Regions from separate parts of the Homo sapiens genome. Here all the other regions are linked to region 2. The links come from fine-mapping of genetic effects on gene expression. A gene starts in region 2. Each other region holds a variant in brackets. All regions are shown on one strand. Distances are from middle to middle.

The links.
Region 1: its variant is fine-mapped to the expression of ABTB3 in whole blood (TOPMed, PIP above 0.99).
Region 3: its variant is fine-mapped to the expression of ABTB3 in monocytes (Fairfax 2014, PIP 0.95). The same link has a PIP of 0.9 or more in monocytes after interferon gamma.

The regions. Positions count from the first base shown.
Region 1 is chr12:107,368,444-107,370,943 of GRCh38, forward strand. All of the region lies in intron 1 of ABTB3 (ankyrin repeat and BTB domain containing 3), which reads left to right. Among named protein-coding and RNA genes, the nearest start is that of ABTB3, 51 kb to the left of the region's middle. The variant C/T (reference allele first, on the strand shown) is at 1,374.
Region 2 is chr12:107,316,786-107,319,583 of GRCh38, forward strand. It overlaps ABTB3 (ankyrin repeat and BTB domain containing 3), which reads left to right and starts at 1,649. Exons shown (of 17, transcript NM_001018072.2): 1 at 1,649-2,798. The coding sequence starts at 2,156. RefSeq lists an enhancer at 2,151-2,798.
Region 3 is chr12:107,272,233-107,275,081 of GRCh38, forward strand. No RefSeq gene overlaps it. Among named protein-coding and RNA genes, the nearest start is that of ABTB3, 45 kb to the right of the region's middle. The variant T/TTCCATCCATCCA (reference allele first, on the strand shown) is at 1,656.

The DNA of each region.
Region 1 (2,500 bases), 52 kb after region 2:
CTATCACATAGTTGGCACCCATCATATTTTGTGTCTATCCATTCTTTAATGATGGGCAACTAGTTGCATCCAATTCCCCAGTACCGTGAACAATAATGTTGTCATTATGGGAACAATCTCCTTTCACTTGTTCCCATATGGACCCCATGCAAGTATCTATACTCAGGAGTGGGTTGGTCGGGTCACAGGGTTTATACAAACTTGGTTTCGATAATCAGTACCAGGTGAGTCTCTGGAACTGCTATGCCAGTCTAGACCCCCACCAGTGGCGCGGAGGGGTTCCCATTTACCCATATCCTGTTTAACAATCAATATTACTCAACATTGTAATTTTGTAAATCTGTTGAGTATAATGTGGAATCTATTGTTACTTTCATTTTCATTTATCTTATTACTAACGAATTTGAGCATCTTTTCATCTGCCTGTTGACTATTCTGGTTTCCACTTCTGTGACCTGCCTATTCATATCTACAGACCATTTTTCTATTGCATTTCCTTTCTTTTCTCATTGATTTATAGGAGTTACATATGTAGTTAGATGTTAATTCTTTGTTGGGTTTAGACATTGTAAATATCACTTTCCACTCTGCCACCTCTCTGTTAACTTTGTTCACAGTGTCTTTTGTTGAACAGAAGCCCTAATTTTGATGTAATCAAATCTACCAACTTTTTTTTCTTTTTGCTTTTTGGTTCGTGCCTTGGGGATTTTATTTAAGAGGACCTTCCATGCCCTAAGTTCACAAAGGTATTGTTTCACTTTCTTCTGTTAGCTTTGTAACTTTGCTTTCACATTTAGGTTTTTCATCCACTTAGAGTCTACTTTCATATATTGTGTTTGAGAGGGATCCAAATTCATTTAGTGAGCCAGTTTTCTCGACATTATAGAACCATTCCTTTCCCCATCAAGATGAGATGCAACCTTTATTATAAATCAGGTTCAAACAAGGGTTTTTTTTTTTTTTTTTCTTTTTGAGATGGAGTCTCGCTCTTGTCACCCCGGCTGGAGTGAATGGTGTGATCTTGGCTCACTGCAACCTCTGCCTTCCACGTTCAAGCAATTCTCCTGCCCCAGCCTCCTGGGTAGCTGGGATTACAGGCACCCACCACCACACCCAGCTAATTTTTTGTATTTTTAAGAGAGACAGGATTTCACCATGTTGGTCAGGCTGGTCTCGAACTCCTGACCTCAGACGATCCACCCTCCTTGGCCTCCCAAAGTGCTGGGATTACAGGCATGAGCCACCATACCCAGCCCAAACATGGTTTTTTTTTTTTTTTTTTTTTTTTTTTCTGAGCTTTTGTTCTCTTCTGAGCTCTCTGCACCTTATTGTTCAAGAAATAAAACAGAATGAGTTTTGTTTGGCAGAATTTG[C/T]CTGGTGTATTCTGAGTAGGGGAGCCCTGATGATTTCCTGTAATGCTGGGAGGTGGTGAGGCATAATGAAACTAACATTAAACTTGGGGTCAGAGGAACCCAGGCTTGTTCCTGGCTCCACCACTTACAGCCACGTGAACTTGAACTACTCCCTCAACCTCTCTGAGCCTCCGTTTCTACATCTATTAAACAGCGATGATGATATGTATCGCCTAGGAATTCTGTAAGAGTTAAATGCTAGAATATATGTAAAAGCATAGCTTTCAGTAAACGTTATTTTCCCTTTGATCATTGTCACCAGACAAAAACTCTAACAGTAAGTGGTTTTCCCCAGGCCTCACCAAGGTAGGTATAAATTGGGAACACATTATTCCTGATCCCTCAAATGTCACTGCCTCTTGTTCTCGCCTGCTAATGGATGACTTCTCCTCAGTTCTTTCGTTCCTTCTGTGTATCCCCATGGTGGCCCATGTCGGTTCGTGGAAGCTTCCCGTTGACCTTCCCACCAATGAGCACACTTCCATTGGCACTGCAGAGGTTTCCAGGGACACACACTTTCTCTTCTTCCAAAGTCAGCCAATCAGCCCCACAGGCTTGGAGACAAAGGTAGATGTAGATGCTTAGCCGGGAATGTTGGACGAGTCCTCAGAGTGTGGCTCTTGCCTGGGCATTTCTTCACATGGGCTTTAGGAACACAGTATTTCTGCCTGGCTCCCCTTCCTCTCTCAGCCCTTTCCCCTGAAAAAATAGATAAAAATCAAGACAAAGCATGGTCTCTGGGTCACAGGCTTGAGGGAAGCATGGGAAGTGTTGCAGCCGTGCTCTGGACTGGGTGGCCTGGTGGGGCTGCTGAGCCTGTGCTGCTGGAAATAGTTTGGTTGAAAGGCCATGCAAAGCCAGCTCTGTGAAGGTGCTTCTTTGGCTGCCTATCAAAAAAGGGATTTTTTTTTTTTTTTTTTTTTTTTTTTTACAGTTTTGTGACTTAAGCTTTTGATCCCTTGGTTGTGGCTCTGTGCTGATACCTTTGCTGAGCCTTGAAGGGCTGTCAGGGTAGGCAGGAGGATCCAAAAGTTGTTTTCGACCCAGCACACTGGCCAAGAAAGGCTATCACCTTCCAAGAAGGGTGA
Region 2 (2,798 bases):
CAGGTGTGCACCACCATGCCTGGCAAATTTTTGTATTTTTAGTAAAGATGGGGTTTCACCATGTTGGTCTGGCTGGTCTCCAACTCCTGACCTCAAGTGATCTGCCCGCCTCAACCTCCCAAAGTGCTGGCATTACAGGCGAGAGCCACTGCACTCGACTGAGATTTTATTTTCTTTGGGTGTATACTCAGAAGTGGGATTGCTGGATCACATGGTAGTTCTATTTTTATTTTTGGGAACCTCCATGCTGTTTTCCATAATGGCTGTACTCATTTACACCCCACCATCAGTGTACAAAGGTTCTCTTTTTTCCACATCCTTGCCAACACTTGTTATCTTTTGACTTTTTGATAATAGCCATCCTTACAGGTGTGAAGTGATATTTCATTGTGGTTTTGATTTGCATCTCCCGAATGATTAGTGATGTTGAGCATATTTGCATATACCTGTTGGCCATTGTTGAACATTCAAAGCAACAATTTAAAAGCATATCCTTACGTCCTTCATCAATTTACAACAAATATTTACTGAGCACTTATACTGTGCCAGGACTATGCATGGGAACCCCTAGCCCAGTGTAGAATCCAGACAAGTAACCAGGCTTTTGCAACCTAGTGTTGCAAGGGCCCAGAAATCAGCAACCACAGAAGGGGATAGAGGCAGTGGAAGCACCGAAGCCAGTCTTGAAACATCTGGGCCAGCTTCCTATAGGAGGGGATTCTAAGCTGAGAGACACAGTGTGCGGAGCTAGGAATCCCCATGTGTGTAAGATATGGTTTCTGCCTGGGTGGGTGGGGACAGACAAGTAGATGACACGATGCTATTTGACACAGGAATGCAGCTAAGCCATGCATATATATATTATATCTTTCTTTAGTCAGGAAAGAAGATTCTCCTTTGAGCAAATTTACTCCTTTTAAGAAGGCCGAGCTATTTGGAAAGATGCCCACCAGGATGGCAAAGTGGTGCTTGAGCCCTCCCTGCAGCACACGCCCAGGACTTTGAAGCAGGGACAGGGTCCTCCTGGCTACTGAAAGGAATCGAGTTAACGCGCCCTAGTGGCAGGTGGCGAATGGCCGGAGATCCGGCCTCCCAGTGGTGTCCACCGCCACGGGCCTCCGCTCGACAGGCTTATTTCCCTCCATGCTGGAGCAAACCCCGGCTGAAAGAGGGCCGCACTAATTGGTTTGCGTACCCGAAGTGGGAATAGAGAGGGAGGAAAACCATGTTTCAGGTGTTACGGGGGGAAAAAAGTGAAATGCGAACCGCAGGGGAGAGAGCGACCGTCAGGCAGACACCTTGTGAACCGCGGTGGAGAGCACACCTAGGTGGGGAGGTCACCGGCCCAACCCACCACCCTCCGGGAGAATGCGGGCAGGGACAGCAGCAGGGGGCAGCATCCACGTCTCTACGCTTGCAAGGGTTCCCCAAGTCCCTGGCCACTGCTCCCCACTTCCTGCAGCCTCGGTGTCCGCCGGGGGCGTGTGTGAGGGGCGGGGCCGCATGGGGAGGAGGGATTTAAAAAAAAAAAAAAAAAGCGAGGTAATTAGCATTCTCCGATTCCACTGGCTCTCCGCCGCCCCTGCTTTGCATACGCCCGTCCCACTGGCTGCCCGGGGTTTGCTGGGGTTCGGCAAGGTTTGCAGCCGCCACGGCCGCTGCTGCGCTCCGGTGCAGGGCAGGCTGGCGCCGAGCGAACCAGGGCCGGGAACTGGGAGCCGGGAGCCGGGAGCCAGCTGCCCGCGGAGCTGCGGCGGCGGCGGCATCTGGGGTGGTCTCAGTCCCACGAACACCGTGGCCGGCGCCCGGTGGCTACTGCGCCCAGCGGGGCTCAGGGAAGAGCGGTCTAGACACTTTTTATTTTGGAAGAAAGGGGCAAGCCCCGGCGGGAGCTTCCTTCCCGGCCTGGCTCGCTCCCCATTGCGCCCAGCTCCGGCCCGGACTCTGGAAGATGACTCCAGGGTCTGCTCTGTATATTCCAGCGGCGGCAGTTCCGGGAGGCAGCCGAAAGTACTAACAGTTGGTAGCAGCGGCTAGTGGAAAAGTGAGCCAAGGCGGCGCGGACTCGGCTCTCCCCGCGCCCCGCGGCACTCGCTGCTCCTCGCCGCTCCTTCCCTTTGGCTCCCAGGCGGCTGCAGCATGAAGTGGCGCAGCGATGGCCAGGAGAGGTAAGAAGCCCGTGGTGAGAACGCTGGAGGATCTGACGCTGGACTCGGGTTATGGTGGCGCGGCGGACTCGGTGCGCTCCTCCAACTTGTCTTTGTGCTGTTCCGACTCGCACCCGGCGTCCCCGTATGGCGGGAGCTGCTGGCCGCCTCTAGCTGACTCCATGCACAGCCGGCACAACAGCTTTGACACTGTCAACACTGCCCTGGTGGAAGACTCCGAGGGGCTGGACTGCGCCGGCCAGCACTGCTCGCGGCTGCTGCCGGACCTAGACGAGGTCCCCTGGACTCTCCAGGAGCTGGAGGCGCTGCTGCTGCGTTCGCGGGATCCCCGGGCAGGCCCGGCGGTCCCCGGCGGCCTGCCCAAGGACGCGCTGGCCAAGCTGTCGACGCTGGTGAGCCGGGCGCTGGTGCGCATAGCCAAAGAGGCGCAGCGCCTGAGCCTGCGCTTCGCCAAGTGCACCAAGTACGAGATCCAGAGCGCCATGGAGATCGTGCTGTCCTGGGGCCTGGCCGCGCACTGTACGGCGGCTGCGCTGGCCGCACTGTCCCTCTACAACATGAGCAGCGCCGGCGGCGACCGCCTGGGCCGCGGCAAGTCGGCCCGCTGCGGCCTCACCTTCTCCGTGGGCC
Region 3 (2,849 bases), 45 kb before region 2:
TGTCTCTATGTGAATATGGACAGTTAGCATTTACCAACATATATCTGTCTACTTTCTCTTGTTTAAAAAAAAAGAAACTTTAAAAAATGGGGTTATAAAACGTCAGCAAAGGGTGGGTTTGAGATGTTTGGGTGGGTTAAGTGGGCATTTTGACAACATGGCTTCTCCTTTGGCATGTTTAATTGTGACATTTGACAGATATCCTTGCTGTTTAAGATGACACTTTTAAAATAAATTCTCTCCTAATGATGACTTGAGCCCTGCCACTCAATGGGAGAATCAGCAGAACCTGTAGGATCTTATTTGGAATTGACATTCTCTATTGTAATTTTGTTCCATTTATTTTTAAATTTTCTTTTTGTTTCACTGGAAAGGAAAGATGATGCTCAGTTTCAAACATTAAAAGTGTGCAAGTTGCTTTGTTACAGTAAAACTAAATGTGTACACAAAAGATTTGATGCTTTTCTCTCAGCATAGGTATGCTTCCAATGACCTTCCAAGTTTGACTTGTATAACATCACTTTCAAACTTTGTCACTCTAACTTCATATTTTTTGATATGCACTTTGGAGGATGACCTCAGGGTTATGTGAACTGAGTAACGGGATTAGAATCAATGTACTAATATCTCCATAGCTGGGAAACATGGGTAAAATTTGCCATTGTTTTCTGAAATTATTCACATCATTTGAGATACCGGATTGCTCAATACTTTCTGAGTATATTGTGCCCTTGATTTTTATCTCCAAGTGGTAGTTTTTAAAATTGGCCTTTTACCTGGATATAAAATAATAGTGCCTGCCACCACCATCCAACAGACCTGGTGCTCTAATGCCAAGTTATACATGGGACAGTTGCTGGCACGTCTTCATTGGCTATATAAAATGTGGCCAAGAAGACAGGCTCTCAGAGTAAGAAGTCTGTGGTGGTTAGCAGTAACTTTCCCTACTCTCTGGTATAAAGCTCTCAAATGTGACTATGTGAATCTGGGTGGAATAATGGACTCAGCTCTGTCTGCTCAATGCTATTGTGCAGAGAAGTACCTTAATGCATAAGCTTTTTAATGCTGTAAAATACAGTAGCTGAAATTAAATGCCACTTTTTCAGAGGTGAATTAATGGACAGTCTGGTGAAATTCAAAAGGTTTTTGATGTATAGAACTTGATGAATGGAACTATTCCATCAATAGGCAAAAGTGTCACAACCTATCTAGATGGATAGTATGTAATTTCTGCACAGGTCTCTGTTTAGTAAATACATCACTGTATACTGATCAGGAATCTTGCTCCAGTAAAGGAACATAAAGACTTTTTTTTGGAAAAAGAAAAAAGAATATCCTATTATGCCCAGGTGCAGTGGCATACGCTTGTAGTCTCAGCACTTTGGGAGGCCAGAGCAGGCAGATCACTTGAGCCCAGGAGTTCAAGGACCAGCATGGACAACATGGAGAAACCCTGCCTCTACTAAAAATACAAAAATTAGCCAACATGATAGCTACTCAGGAGGCTGAGATGGGAGAATTGCCTGAGCCCAGGAGACAGAGGTTGCAGTGAGCTGAGATGGTGCCACTGCACTCCCGCCTGGGTGTCAGAGCAAGAGCCTGTCTCAAAAATAAAAAAAAAGAAAAAAAGAAAGAAAAGAATATACTATTTCCTA[T/TTCCATCCATCCA]TCCATCCATCCATCCATCCATCCATCCATCCATCCATCCATCCTTTCATCTCTGTCTTTTTTCCTATCCTGGAAGACCCACTTCCTCCAGGAAATCTTCCTTATATCCTCAATATCTTCAGCTACCCTTCATCTCCCTCATTTCTGTCAATTCATTAGAGTCTATAACACACAATTTAGCACTAAGTTACACAACTTAGGTTTTTCTCTTAATCACTTTGAAGATGTTGTTGTTTCAACTGGATTATAGATTTATTCAGAACAGAGAGTGCCACAGTGCCAAGCACAAAGAGGAACAAAGAGTGTTCAATGAACAAAGAAAATTACAGAACAACAAACATTTTATATCTAGAAAGGATCTCAAAAATAATGAAGTTTAATCTGCTTGATTTCAGAAGAAGAACTGAGGTTAATACAGAAGAAACATCCTTGGCTGATGAAATAGAAAGAATAAAATGGAGATTCAATATTATATTTACATGTAAAATATGTTTTATATATTTATAAAAATTACATATTATTTATGTAACAGAAGAATTTTCCCCCATCATACTGTGGAATGGTAGTTGGAGGATCATGATACGTTCAAGCTGGGAGGGAACTTAGAAGTGACGTAAGACATGCAATTTAAGTTTGTAGATGAGAAAACTTCCTCCTAGGAAAAGGAAAAGATTTGTCCAAGATCACCCAAGTTTTTAGTAGTAAAGCTGGGACTAGGATCCACACCTCCTTCTTCTCACTCCTATGATTATTTTCCACACTCCACTGTCACCAAATCCTTGCTTTAAGCTTCCATTCCTCACTAGACCATGCATCTGACATTAGGGCTCATTTGTCCCTCACAGTTTTAGTTCTATATCATTTATCCTTAACCATTCCATGCACCATTTTCCTTTTCAGCTTCTTCTTTCTGCTATCCATTTGTATTTACCTCTGCTTACTTTGTCCTTGATCTGTGGACTACACAGTTTGCCCTGTCTCCTTGGCTATAACCTTGATTCTGCTCCTCACCTCTGCCTTGGTGTAAATACCTTTCCCAGTTCAGCCTGGTCTCAGCACTGGGTGTCGCCTACTCTTGACTAATTCATGCATTGATTTAACACACATTTACTGTGCATGTCTTCTGTGAAAGTTTCTGAATGAAGAACACTTAGTATCTACTCAATATGCTCACAATCTATTGGTGAGAGAGGG